Linked DNA regions of Homo sapiens. The protein of the gene in region 2 purifies or fractionates together with the protein of the main gene of each other region. This does not show direct contact. Each region holds a gene or a part of one and is shown on either strand. Other genes may lie near its edges.

Evidence for each region.
Region 1: the proteins of REPIN1 (region 2) and POTEB3 purify together in Homo sapiens (co-immunoprecipitation; one large-scale study listed by IntAct). This does not show direct contact.
Region 3: the proteins of REPIN1 (region 2) and RALY purify together in Homo sapiens (affinity purification with mass spectrometry; one large-scale study listed by BioGRID and IntAct). This does not show direct contact.
Region 4: the proteins of REPIN1 (region 2) and CEP83 purify together in Homo sapiens (affinity purification with mass spectrometry; one large-scale study listed by BioGRID and IntAct). This does not show direct contact.

What each region holds. Positions count from the first base shown.
Region 1 is NC_000015.10:21,419,934-21,423,499, reverse strand, and holds part of POTEB3 (POTE ankyrin domain family member B3), read left to right. Parts: intron 1-1,309; coding exon 1,310-1,380; intron 1,381-2,781; coding exon 2,782-2,826; intron 2,827-3,566.
Region 2 is NC_000007.14:150,367,452-150,371,634, forward strand, and holds the start of REPIN1 (DNA-binding protein REPIN1), read left to right. Parts: upstream 1-1,370; 5' UTR 1,371-1,451; coding exon of another isoform or gene 1,452-1,490; exon of another isoform or gene 1,491-1,582; intron 1,583-1,638; exon of another isoform or gene 1,639-2,219; 5' UTR 2,220-2,260; coding exon 2,261-2,417; exon of another isoform or gene 2,418-3,776; coding exon 3,777-4,183. UniProt on the Homo sapiens protein: Sequence-specific double-stranded DNA-binding protein. Binds ATT-rich and T-rich DNA sequences and facilitates DNA bending.
Region 3 is NC_000020.11:34,083,148-34,085,450, reverse strand, and holds the end of RALY (RNA-binding protein Raly), read right to left. Parts: 3' UTR 567-2,303; downstream 1-566. UniProt on the Homo sapiens protein: RNA-binding protein that acts as a transcriptional cofactor for cholesterol biosynthetic genes in the liver. Binds the lipid-responsive non-coding RNA LeXis and is required for LeXis-mediated effect on cholesterogenesis.
Region 4 is NC_000012.12:94,372,802-94,376,367, forward strand, and holds part of CEP83 (centrosomal protein of 83 kDa), read right to left. Parts: intron 3,217-3,566; coding exon 3,085-3,216; intron 1-3,084. UniProt on the Homo sapiens protein: Component of the distal appendage region of the centriole involved in the initiation of primary cilium assembly.

The sequences.
Region 1 (3,566 bases), on a different chromosome or scaffold from region 2:
GGTCCTAAGGCAACCTCAAGGAAGGAGTTACCTGTTTATCTGGGGAAAGATCTGCAGAATCAAGGAAGACTTCCCATAGCATTGTTTTAAAAGATGAAAACAAGGCTGGGTGTGGTGGCTCACACCTGTAATTGCAGCATTTTGGGAGGCTGGAGCAGGTGGATCACAAGGTCAAAAGATCAAGACCATCCTGGCCAATGGTGAAACCCCATCTCTACTAAAAATACAAAAATTAGCTGGGCATGATGGTGTGTGCCTGTAATCACAGCTTCTCAGGAGACTGAGACAGGAGAATCATTTGAACCAGGGAGTCAGAGGTTGCAGTGAGCTGAGATTGTGCCACTGCACTCCAGCCTGGTGACAGAGCAAGACCCCAGCTAAAACAAAAAAAAAAGAAAAATGAAAATAAATTTGTCATAATAGTGGATGGAAACATTTTAGATGTTAAGAAGACATTGTACACTAATAAAGGTGTCAGTAGTAATTTTGGAAATCGTTTGTAAGGTACTATTTTTGCAGAAAACAGGAGGCAGGAGAGACCCAGTGGGTCAAACAAGAGGATTTTGTTTAGGTGCACACCAGCTCAGCGGATTTGCATCAAAAAGCTGAGCCCTGAACAAAGACAGGGCTTGGCTTATATAGGCAAACTTATAGAAGCAGAACAAAGGCAGTTAATCATATAGTGACAGTTTTGCAACCACTGCATAGCTTGCGACCTTGCAGCTGCATTGAGGGAAAACAAGAATTTGCAAAATATATGCATTTGTAAAAATAGCTATGAATAAATGCTGAGGGGGAGGGGAGATGGTAAAGGAATTTGTTTTCTTAACCTTGCTCTGGGATGTCTGGAGCCCATACCTGTGGGCTCTGGCTTCTCAGACAGGGTCACCATGACCTTTCCTGGGCCTGCTTGTTACTATCCTTAGAGTCAGACTAGCTAAGTGCAGGAAAACTTGTTTCTCTTTAAAACTAAATTTCCTTTTCTTTACATTTACTGCTTCACTATTAGGAAGTGAACAACATACTGAGTTACCTTATATGTTTCTACTGTATTTTAAAGTTGTGTTTCTGGTGGTTTTGTTCATTTATGTTGGGTGGATGAATTTGTGAGTGAATCACATCAGGTGTCTCCCCAAGTGGTTTGTTGAAGTTTTGGAGAATTATTTCCTAAGTAACTATTTCATGAAAGACTAAACACTCAGTTTATGAAATAAAATAAAATGTTGTCTTCAATCTATTTTTATAAAGGCAATAGTTTTTAACTGTTCTAAGTGGTTCATTTTAACTGAATATATGGATTTCTCAACAGAACAAGACTTAAAGCTGACATCAGAGGAAGAGTCACAAAGGCTTAAAGTCAGTGAAAATAGCCAGCCAGAGGCATGGAAAATTTTAAGTTTAAATTTTTGATTTAATGTTGTTTTCTTTGCTTGAATAATATTAGATAGTCCAAATGAAATTACCTTTCAGACTAGGTTTTAAGAATCAATAGATTCTTTTTTTAAGAATTTTTTAATAGATTCTTAAAATTTATTTTAATAAATTCAGCAATCTCATTAACAGAAGAATTAATAAATTCTAACTTGACATTTGATATTTAGCTTAAAAACGTAACCACTATAAAATTTAAAATACTCTTATTTTATGGTATTCTTATTTAAAATATTCTTATCTGCCTTTTTGATTAGCTTATAGCTAATCTTTCCTTTTGGAATAGAGGCAAAAACATATTCCAGACCTTTGTTTGTTCTTTTATTTTTACAACACCCTAACATGATAAAGTACCATCAATTATTGGATTATATTATTAAGCAATAGAACTGTGAACAATGTAACACTGAAGGTCCCTGAGCTGGATTCATGGTTAAAGAATAATCACGGCCAGTGATTGAAAATCTGCAGTTTTATATTGTCAGTCACAGATACCAAGGTTAAAGACATATTCTGCCTTGTGGTCTCTCACTGACCTCAGCATTTCTGTTCAGGGAGGGAACCAGGTCATAAAAGCAACCCAACTGCCTATTACAAGAATCATATCTTGCAGAATGGGACATTTGGTGTTAGTGCACAAACACAATAACCTTCTACCTTATTTCAGTTGCAGAAAATCAGTACAGATTATTAAAAAATTTTTATCCACTGTAATTAGTACACCTTAGAATATATTAGAACTGGACTTAAGCAGATCATCTAGATACATAACACTATCATATTACAGCATATAATTTCAATTAAAATTTAAGAATTTGCATTTCTTCCTCTTTGGTGTTGATTTCAGCTCCTAATAATTTAAAGCGTGCCTACAATCCAATTAGGAATCTTTTTAAAAAGCACTTCAGTGCACTATAGGGGCTCACTAGTTAGGGTTTCATGAGATATACTCTTTTCAAGTGAGGAAGCCCTTGGAACACTACAAATCATCTGCTAATTCATTTTTGGTAGATTTAACACATAACAAATTAAGTTTAGTCCAAACAAATGGTGACAAAGTTAAGTTTGCTGGTTCATGTTTTTATTCTCCCTTTGTCTAAGGTGAATTATTTTCCCATGTTAGTCAGAAGCCAATGATGTGGCAGTAGCTAAACATAGATTAAAAAGTTAATTCTTAATTTTAATTATTTATTTATTTAATTATTTTAAGTTAAATTTTATTTTATTTTCTAATTTTTCATGTCCATACTTGATTACTTAAGAATAAAATTATTTTAACATGCATTCCAAAAGAGGAGACATACACGGAAATACAACAAGCAAATTAACCTTCTATTTTTGCATCTGCAGAAAATGTCTCAAGAACCAGAAATAAATAAGGACTGTGATAGAGAGGTATACCTTTATGTTCAAATGTTTCTGTGGAATTAGATTTTTATGTTATGCTGTTTAACAAAGTGTAGTAAGTGTACGCATACATGATCCTATCATGTAAGTAGCATAAATCACCAGTGAAAAATTTAATATTTAACTCAGAAAGAATTCTGTACATTGAGTTTTCAAGAGATACAAACCCTAGAGAGATTCTTTCATTATTATGGAACAATCCTGAATGGTGCCATAAAATGCTAGGTAATGCCTCTTTAGGAGATTTGGACCAATCCTTTTATCTTTCTTGGTTTTAGTCTGATTATCACTAGATAATGTGGCTAAAGAAGATAATTACTTATTCTTTGTAATTTCCAGCTGGAAAATTGTATAGCTATTGAATGTGAAATTTGGGGAGCATCTAATTTTCTGGAATTCCATGCTTGCACCTCAGCAGTTTCACTCTGCTCCTTGTGTTGTGGCAAACTTTGGTTTTCATGTTTCAGTGAGCACCATCATGTTTTTGATATCCAGGAACCAAATGAAAAAAGAACGATCAAAGGCAGTGGGAGAGGAGAATATCTTAGTGCAGAAAAGGGCCATCTTCCTTTCTATTCCTGAAGCCCCCCAGTGTCTCATCCTCTACATCTGAGTGTTTAATGTAAAATCTAGGTGGTAAAGACAGAAGACACATTTTGTGTCTATGTCGTTTTATTTTTGTGTTCCCACGAGTCAAATGGGGTAAATTCATATATAAGATTCTGAAG
Region 2 (4,183 bases):
TCACAAGAGAAAATAAAACTGGCAAAAAATAACCATGTGAAAAAACAATCCAGCTAACTAGTACTCTAAGAAATGCAAGTACAAAAGATGAGAAATAACCATTTCAAACTAAATTTTTTTTTTAAAAAAGTCTGTGTTGTCAAGTATATGGAAAATGGGCATTTCTCAGGGAAAACTAATACGTTTTCCTGGAAGATAATTTAGAAAACATTTAAAAAATATATTCCTTTTATACAGCCATAAATAATCATGTTTAAAAGAATATCTAATAAAATGGAAGAAAATTCACAAGATCGTGTTAAGTGAAGAAGGCAGAATACATCTTCGCAAGGCATTATTCCAATTATGCCAGACATGCCATGGATATACGTAGAGAAAACACCGGAGGCAACATACCAAAATATTAAATGTAATTGACTCTACGAGGTAAAACTGAGTTTTATGTTCCCCTATTTCCTATTTATGCAATAGATTTAAAAAGTATTTTTACGACTAATTATACAATTCAAAAATTGCCTGTGTTGAAAAGCATGAAAGTACATGAAATTGTACTACCCTGGAAACCCCAGGAAGTGTTTAGTTTGGAAAGCCAGGGCCACCTGCTAGTGGGTGAGTCATGGGCACAGGCTCGCACCTGCCACCGCAGACGCCACACAGGCTGCTGAGCCTTTCCAAGCGAAATGCCCCACGTGCGCCAACGGCCACCTCGGCCGTCGCCCCACGCTTGGCCCGCAGCCAGAGGAAGCCCAGCAACTTCTGCTCTTTCTTAATTTCTAGAAAAGAGTGAAGAGAGGCCTTTTCAAAGTTCGCAGGATCGGGCCTTTTTGTGCTCCACTTTGGAACAAATCGGAAGCTAGGGCCTTCCAGGTGCGCCACCGCCGTCCCGGGACCGCCGCGGCCGCAAGCGTCCGCACTGCGGCCGGGGTGCGCGGCCTGAGAAAGGCCCGGGCAACGACGCTCCGGGGGCTTGCCGGAGCCCTCTTTGAAGTCTCCCGACGGGCTCCCAGCCTCTCATAAGGCAGCTAAGGCCGAACACCCCGGTGACCATAGGCCAGCCACGCGGTCGCCCGGGGACGCGCGTGCTCCGCAGGGACAAAGGGTCGGGAAACTTGAGCTCCGGCCAGTCCCAGAGAAACCCGGGCTGGTGGTCGCCATGGCAACGGAGTCCGACCCTCCGAGGCCTGCCGCCCTGGCGCGGCAGTGGCTTGAGTGACCCGGCCCGCTCTTGGCGGGGGCGCCCGCGCCCCGGCCCCGGCAGTCCCTCCCCGCCCCCAGGCCGCGGCCGCGGGAGCCGGCGACTGACCCTCGGCAGCTCCTGTAGTCACGTGGCGCTGGGAACCCGGCGGGGGGAGGTTGGGGACGGGCCTGGCAGTTGTGAACTCGAACCTGCCGCTGTCGCCGCGGCGGGGCGGGGAGCGAGAGTGGGCCGCGGAGGCCGGCCTTCGGGCTCCATGGACGGGCGCCGCGTCCCTGCACAGCCCGCCGCAGAGGTACGGCCGGGGCAGGGGCGCGGGGCCACCGCGGGCCCGCGGGGGGCCGCTCCACCTGCGGGGCGCGTGACCGTGAGTGTGCGCGACCGTGTGTGAGTGCGCGGGGGGGGACGCTGCTGGATCTGCGGGGGTGGGGGAGCGCACCTGCGCACAGGCTCCGCGAGCTGCGCCGTGCGTGGGACCCGAAATGGCTCACTCGCAAGAACGGGACCCGTGTGCCCGGGAGCGTGGACGGAGGACACGCATCAGTACAAAAGGGCGGTGTGGGGCTTCTGCCACCCGCGGCCAGCCGCGATGCGGAAGGGGATTCTGACGGAGTCGTGGTCACACCAGCTGGCCCTGCGCAGCCCCATGGGAAATAGGCCTGGAATTCCTGTCGGGAGGAGGCTGGGGGAAGGGGAGCCAGCAGGGATTCCAGAGTTCCTGCCATAGGCCGGCCTTTGGCCATCAGGGAAAGCCCAGACTCTGGCCACAGAATGGAGAATTCGTTCCGTGACCTTACCAGGGAAGAAAGTGACCCCGAAAGACAGCAGTGTGCTTCCTTGTTGAAGGGGCACATTCATTTATTAATCCAATGTCCATTAAGGTCACTCTGCCAGGCAGGATGTGGGGCTTATGGCTGGTGCGTGTGGCTTTGTGGGGGGAGGGGTTGTGGCTGGTGAGGACACAAAGCTGACTGCCCTAGAGGAGCTCAGAGCCTCACTTCTGTTTTCTCTTCCCTCCCCACAGGTAAGGCTGGCCTCTCTGCAGTCAGAGGTCTGAGCTCTGCCATGGGGATAGGGGTGTCTTTATTACTGCAGTTTTCTCTAACACCTGGGGGCTACCGGAGTGTGGGCCGAAGCAGGCGCTGCAGCCGCGGAAGTATCCCCAGGAACATCCCCAAGAGGAGCTGGAAAAAGCCTCATCCCCAGCTCTGCAGTCTCCAGGGTAGAGTCTGGCCTTTGCTGTGCTCCCAAACCACGCCACAACAGGGGTGCACGGGCGTCCCCATCCCGGCGGAAGGAAATGGCCCTTTCTCATATCCTGGGGTCTTCCCTGTGCACAGTCTGACACTGGGAATGAGTGACCTTTGTGTTCCCTGAGAAGAGAGAGTGCGCTCTAGGGAATTTAGAAGGATGTGTCTGGAGCTTGTGAGCAGGCACAGAAGGGCCCTTAGGAGCCTAACTGCTTCCTTCCTCCTTCCGCGGAGGAGGCTCCTGTGCAGGAATCTGGGCTCCCCTGAGCTGTGGAAGAGCTGAACATGGGGCAGCCCCTGGCGAGGTTGGGGCAGGACCGGGCAGGGGACTGAGATTGCAGTCTCATCTTCCCTCCCCTTCTATTGCCCCAGTAATCTCCAGCACCCCGAGGGAGGCAGAGCCGGTGATCAGGCCCCGAGGGCAGCAGGCTGTGGGTGTTCCTTGGATTCAGGGAGAGCCTTCCTTCCTGCAATGTCCTAATTTGTGTGGGTGGAAGAGGGCAGGCGGGCAGAATGGGGGCACAGTCTGGGCAGGCGGTGGTCTGGCGTTAGACTGCCGGGAGTAGCACCCAGGGCTCTGCTCCTGTTCCCCGAGAAGGGCTGTTCTCACTTGTCCTCCAGCCTCCTACGGAGACTGCAGTTAGTGATGCTGAAAGTGCCTCCCCTGTGGGGCTAGGAATGAAAAGCTATAGACACCTTTTTCTCTGAGATCTTTGCAAACCCAGGCGCTTTAGAGGAAAGAACACTGGCCTGGGAGTTTAAAGACCTGTTCCCTAGTCTTGATTCTGCTGTTGGCTTACTGTGTCACCTTGGGCAGGTCTCGTCATCTTTGATGTCTCACAGTTGCTTCATCTGTTAAACAGGGAGCTCAGTGTCTGTTTGTCCAGCTTCTCAGAGTTGCTGTGCAGCTCGGATGTGGCATAGGAAACAGCAGACACAGGGAGAGGGCAGCATAAGGCACTGTAGGGAGCAGTGGCCACATTTTCTGGTGAGTCCTGTGGCAGGAATGTTTGTGCATTCAGCACTGGAGCATTTACTCCCTGTCTGACACTGGGGTAGCTGCCATGAGGGGGATTCTAGTATCAGAGTCCCTCCCTTCTGGAAGTTTCCAGGGCAACAAAGACATAAGACAAACATCCTTGAAATGTTATCTAAAAACCCAAGATTGAAATAATACATACCACACAAGGAAACAGGAGAGTAGTCTAGCTCCATGTCCGGGGCTCTAGGGGTTCATAGATGGCAGCTCCTGTCCGGGGCTGAGGTTGGGAGGGGAGAAACAGGGGCAGAGTGAGTTGGTCTCTGGAGTGACTGTGCTTTTCCACCCTCAGCAGAGGAAGAACCGATGCTGGAACGTCGTTGCAGGGGCCCCCTGGCCATGGGCCTGGCCCAGCCCCGACTCCTTTCTGGGCCCTCCCAGGAGTCACCCCAGACCCTGGGGAAGGAGTCCCGCGGGCTGAGGCAACAAGGCACGTCAGTGGCCCAGTCTGGTGCCCAAGCCCCAGGCAGGGCCCATCGCTGTGCCCACTGTCGAAGGCACTTCCCTGGCTGGGTGGCTCTGTGGCTTCACACCCGCCGGTGCCAGGCCCGGCTGCCCTTGCCCTGCCCTGAGTGTGGCCGTCGCTTTCGCCATGCCCCCTTCTTAGCACTGCACCGCCAGGTCCATGCTGCTGCCACCCCAGACCTGGGCTTTGCCTGCCACCTCTGTGGGCAGAGCTTCCGAGGCTGGGTGGCCCTG
Region 3 (2,303 bases), on a different chromosome or scaffold from region 2:
ACAGTTATTAGATGGGCATCTGTACCTACTCCCCTGGTGTTCTTGGGAGGAAAATGAGTTAGAGGTGAAGATTATGGAGCCATGAGTGGAGTCTGAAGCCACGGATGAAGTCATCCAGGGAGCAAGTACATAGAAAAGAGGGTAGACAGATGCAGGCATATGGGTAAGAGTCAGCAAGAGACGGAGTCTTGCTCTGTCGCCCAGGCTGGAGTGCAGTGGCGCGATCTTGGCTCACTGCAAGCTCCACCTCCCAGCTTCACACCATTCTCCTGCCTCAGCCTCCCAAGTAGCTGGGACTACAAGCGCCCGCCACCACACCCGGCTAATTTTTTTGTATTTTTAGTAGAGACGGGGTTTCGCCGTGTTAGCCAGGATGGTCTCGGTCTCCTGACCTCGTGATCTGCCCGCCTTGGCCTCCCAAAGTGTTGGGATTACAGGCGTGAGCCACCGCGCCCAGCAACAAAACCTATACTCTTAACCTAGCCCCCTGAGAAGCACAGCAAGCTACTGAACCTCTGTGGGCCTGTGTCCTGGTTATCTACTGATACAACAAATCACTCCAAAAGTTAGCATCTTCAAACAACGTTTTATTATCTCTCATGGTGCTGGGCTTTGAATGGCATCAGTGAGGCAGTTCTTACTTTGTTCTCAGACGGTGGCTGGGCTGGAGTCATCTTGAAGCCTTCCTCTCTCATGTCTGACATTTGATACTGCTGTCAGCTGAACATGTACACGTGGCCTCTCTGTGTGGCCTGGGCTGCTTCACAGCATGGTGGTTGGGTCCCAAGAGCTAGAGTCCCAAGAGATAATAAGTGGAAGCTGCTAGTGCTTCAGTCTGGGACTGGGAGACTGGCAGAGCACCACCACCATCATATGCTATTGATCGGTCACAGAGTTTAGATAAAGGCGAGGATAGGATAGAGATGCCACCTTTACTTGGGGCCATGCTTTTAAACCTCATCTACAAAATCTATAGAATAGACATAACCACACAGTGGATGCCTGTTTTTGTTAGCCAAGCCTTGCTCTCCTTTTGGGGATTCTCCCCTCTGTCCCTCTATTCTCACAGGCCCTATGGCCATGCTCTACCACTTCTTGGAACCTGCCCGAAAACCAGATTTTTTCCCCTTGAGTTGGGGTCTCGCTTTGTCACCCAGGCTGGAGTGCAGCGGCAGGATCATGGCTCACCGCAGCATTAACCTCCTAGGTGCAAATGATCTCCCACTGTAGTCCCCCAAGTAGCGGGGACTACAGGCACGTGTCACCATGCCTGGCTAACCGGATTCTCGATGGCAGCTTTTGAACCCAAGTCCCCATGTCTGAAGATCCCTGGACTTTACAATTTGTGAGCCAATAAACTTCCTCCCACTAAGCAGGACTGAATTCAGTTTCTGTAACTTGTAACCAGAAGTCCTTACTACACCTACTGAGGGTGGTTGTGGAGATTAAGTAAATGTAAAATGTGCTTTTTAACAGCAGGTGTTCAGGAAATGGTTTACTGTTATGGAGGAAGTTTATTATGAAGAATCTGGCTACTGGTGGAGGGATTTTGATTTGCCTAAAACCTCAATCAATCAATGATCTGGTTGGGATGAAAACCAAGGATGCCTGGCTCAGAATCTTTTGCTCTGCTTTGCCTTCTCTATTTCTGTGGTCTTGTCAGACAGGCCTACTGCATATAACATCCTATGGGGCAGGTTATGACCTTACGGGTCAACCTGGCCAGGGATGGCAAATACCTGACGCTCACGTGCCCACACTTGAATTCCATGCTCATAAGAGAAACTGCCAAACTATCATGTCAGTATTTCCAAACAGTCTGAAAATTGCTGCAGATCCTCAAAAGGCACTCCAGGCAGCTGCTACTAAAAGTTCTGAGTTGGCAAGTGAAATGAGTCCTGAGGTAGATTTTTTAAATATGGCCATATTTTGAAGCTCCTCCTGTTAAGAAGAATTTGGGCTTAGCCATGTGACTTACTTTGGCCAAAAGATACGTCATAGCAATATCCTCAAGAGCACTCGCATACTGGGCTTGTCTTCTCTTGCGGTTTTTGGAACTCAGCCATGATGTCTAGAATCCTGGGTCAGCCTGCTAGATGCTGGAACGTGTGGCCCAGTTGCCCAGCCAACCACCTGACAGGCGGGCGAGGCCATCTGAGACCAGCCAGTCCCCAGCTGATCTGCCAGCTCACTTCAGCCACACGAGGGCCCAGATGAGATAAGAACCACCACACTGAACACAGCCCAAACTGCCAAGCCACTCACTCAGGAGCTAATAAATGTTTATTAAGGCTACTAAATTT
Region 4 (3,566 bases), on a different chromosome or scaffold from region 2:
ATGCTCAAGCAATTTACCTGTCCTCTCTGCATTCAAATGTACTCATTTATGGATCTAAAGTTTTTCTTTATTGCCTTATTTCTATTATCCTAACATCACTGATGCATCACTTATATGAACACTGTTAATTTCCTAAAAATATACTAAAAGGAATTTTACTTAACGTATGAAAATGTATTACCCAGTAATGACAAATAATAGCACTTTTCTATGAGTAATCTGAACCAAATTCCAAATGTTACAGTAAAGTTTCTTTCTGCCCCTAGATCCTTGGTTCTTAATCTTCTTTGTGATCAAGTCCCAAATCCTAGGAAAATTAGGGATTTTTTTTTTAAATAAAATGCTCATGTTAAAATGTTGCATAAAATTTCAAGCAATTCATGGTCTCCTAAAGCTCCACTGGACCAAGTCACCCTGTTCTTCACAGAATGTTTGCCATATAGATTCTGGCCTTTATGTTGTGAATTTGCTTTATGTTTTGACACAATGGAAGTATTCAGATATTACTAACAAAACTTTAATAAATGTCAAAACTGGCAAAACTGGGCATTTTACAGGGGGTCAGTATCTGTTAAAGTACACATACTCACAGAAAGACACACAAGAGCACAGCATAAATAAGCAAGAAATGGAAATATAATTGACAATATGTATTACCTAAGAAGCTCTGGATACAGATTCCAAAGAGATGGTACTTAAATCTTGATCTTTTTCAAAGTTCTGAGATGTAATTACCCAATTAATTTAGGTAAATAAGGACAACTCTGTTGGGTGGCTTTCTTAAAACTACCTTTTATTGGCATTCTGAAAATGAAAAACCTTATGAGGGAACTAGAAGAATTTACCTCACTGAATGTGAAATCTCTTTAAGGTCATCATTTTCAGGCCATCTTTGGTAATACCTTTTAATCCAAGACACTGATACTCACACTGACATAACTTTGTTCTAAAATCTGACAAACATTTATGAATTTGAGTAACTAAGACAAACACACCCCAGGTGTTCCTTTGCACTGCAAACAACCATTTGCTAGAATTGCAAAATGTTGATGAAAACTTCAAGTTGCAAAGAAAACTGTGGCAGTCATGTTTGAAATATTATTTTAAAATCTACCCTTCCAATGGAATCTTTACATACAAGACTTCAAATGAAACTTGGTTTGTTTAAAGTTGAAGGATGGTATTTAATACTCCATTTATATGCAAAATAAGGCAAGTGTGCCTTTAAAAAGACAGGCAACTCTTAGCAATGTGTATTAATAAACAAGCACAGAGAAATAAATACTATACTAGATTGCTGTTCTTTCTTCAGCGGAGTAGGAGAAATCACCTAGGCTCTAACTCTAAGAGGAAAGAGCAATAGGGAAGAGTATATATATATGGAAAAAAAGAAGAAAAATCAGGGTCAGCACACAGGTGAGCTAGGGAGCTCAGGTAAAATGTACTGCATGAAAAGTATTATACTTGGTGGCCCCCCCAAGAGAGAAGCCACAGCAGAAGCCAGCACATCCCATGTCCTATTGCGACATCTGTGGTTCCAATTATTCCAGCAGTGTAGTCTGGCTACTCAGGTCAAGAACAATGTGCTGCAAATACTACGTACTCAATATTATTTCACAAAATTGAAAATAATTTATACTGGAATTGGAAGAAAAGCATGGAAACTCCCCATATCCTGAATTTACTTGTGTTTTGTATCTATTTTTTTGTATACTCTATAGTTATAAGCTTTCAATGTGTATCTGTTGAATATATAATCTACTTACAGTTAATCAGGAGGCAATCAAATTATTTCCTAGTAGTTCTTACACAGTCTTAGTAGGCTGGAAGGGTTCTTACAGATATAAGGAAATTGGATCCTAATGATATTAGGTAACTTGCCTTAGGTTACACATAGTTATTGAGACAGTGAGACACAGACTAGTCAATGGACTAAAAATTCTGTATTCTTTATGTTACAATATTTTCTTATTTAAGGATATCACCAGTGTATAATCACTGCTATTATCATTTTCATCATCAGCTACATTTAATTTTTGCCACAACTCTGTAATGTAGGTATTAGTCCCATTGCATAGACAAAGGCACTTAAGTTTCAGAGAGACAGTGAACTGCCCAAGGTCACACAGCTTTTTTTAGTAATGAAAAAATCAGAATTTGAATCCAGTCTGTTAAGGAGAATATAAATGTAGATCATGCTGCTACTACTAATTTATTCATTGAAGAAATATTTGAGTACCTACTATGTGCCGGCACCATTCTAGAAGCTGGAAAAGCAGTAGTGATGAAAACAATGTCCCTGCTCTCTTGGAGCTTACATTGGGTTGAGGGGAAGGTGGTGGGAAAGAAAAGGAGAGACCAAAAAATAAAAACCAAATAACTATATCAGATAGTATTAAGAGCTATGAAGCAGGTAAGGAAGACAGAGAGAAAGACAGAGGAAGAAGGAAGATGCTGTTTTACAATGTGAAGACAAGGAAAGCCTCCCTGGTTAGGCAACATCTAGGTGGTGAAGAAGCAAGTTATGTGGATACGTGAGGGAAGACTGAGCCAAACTCAGACAAGTGCAGAAACCCTGAGCAAGATGTGAGTTTGCTCAAAGAGTGAGAAGGCCAAAGGGAGCAAAGTGAACAGGAGGAAAAATACAGGTCATGGCTGTGAAAAGACTGCAGGATCCAGATCATACAGAGCTCTGAATGGGTAGAAAGCAGAAAGACCAGTTAGCAACCTAGCACAGAAATGGAGCCTAGAAAAATCATGGCTTGGACTGGAATAGTCACAGTGGATGTCATAAGAATTGATCAGATTCTGCATGTATTTGGAAGGTAGAATGATAAAGGATTAAAAATATTTCAATACAGAGAACTAAACACAAAATTTGTCACTGTACAGTATCAAGCATTCTAAAGAATGAAATAGAGGCATAAGATAACATACTCTACTGATCAATGTATTTATTTCTTAGAAGGCAGAATGATATAATAAAACATTTCAGTATAAAGAAATCAATTATTAAAAATAAAATTTATCATTATATACTAACAAACATTCTAAAGAATGAAACAGAAACATAAAACAACTTACTTTACTGGACAATGTATTTATTTCTCGTTCAGCTTTATGCAATTTATTAATTAAAAAGGTATTTTGTTCACTGCTTGATTGTAGCTCTTTTTCCAAACGTTCTGCCCGTAAATTAGCTGATTGTTTTTCAGCCTTTCATACAAACAAAATAGTTTAAAATTCATCATTTTTCAAGTATTTCAAAATCAAATAAGCACTATTTAAAATACATTTATAATTATACTAAAATTATTCAAAACCTCAACTTAACATATACCAATGTAACAAAAATTTTCTCAAACTAATTGGCAGAATTCAAACGAAAGATAGTGTTCCAGGAAATATGCAACAAAGGCATCTAGACAAACAACATATGAATGACCATCAATAAAATAAAGTTTATACACTTCTCTCACGACAGAAAGTACCTAAGGCATTCATTTGATGTCTATTTACTCTTAACACTGACTTATTTCAAACATTTTGGAAGTTTCCAGTCTATA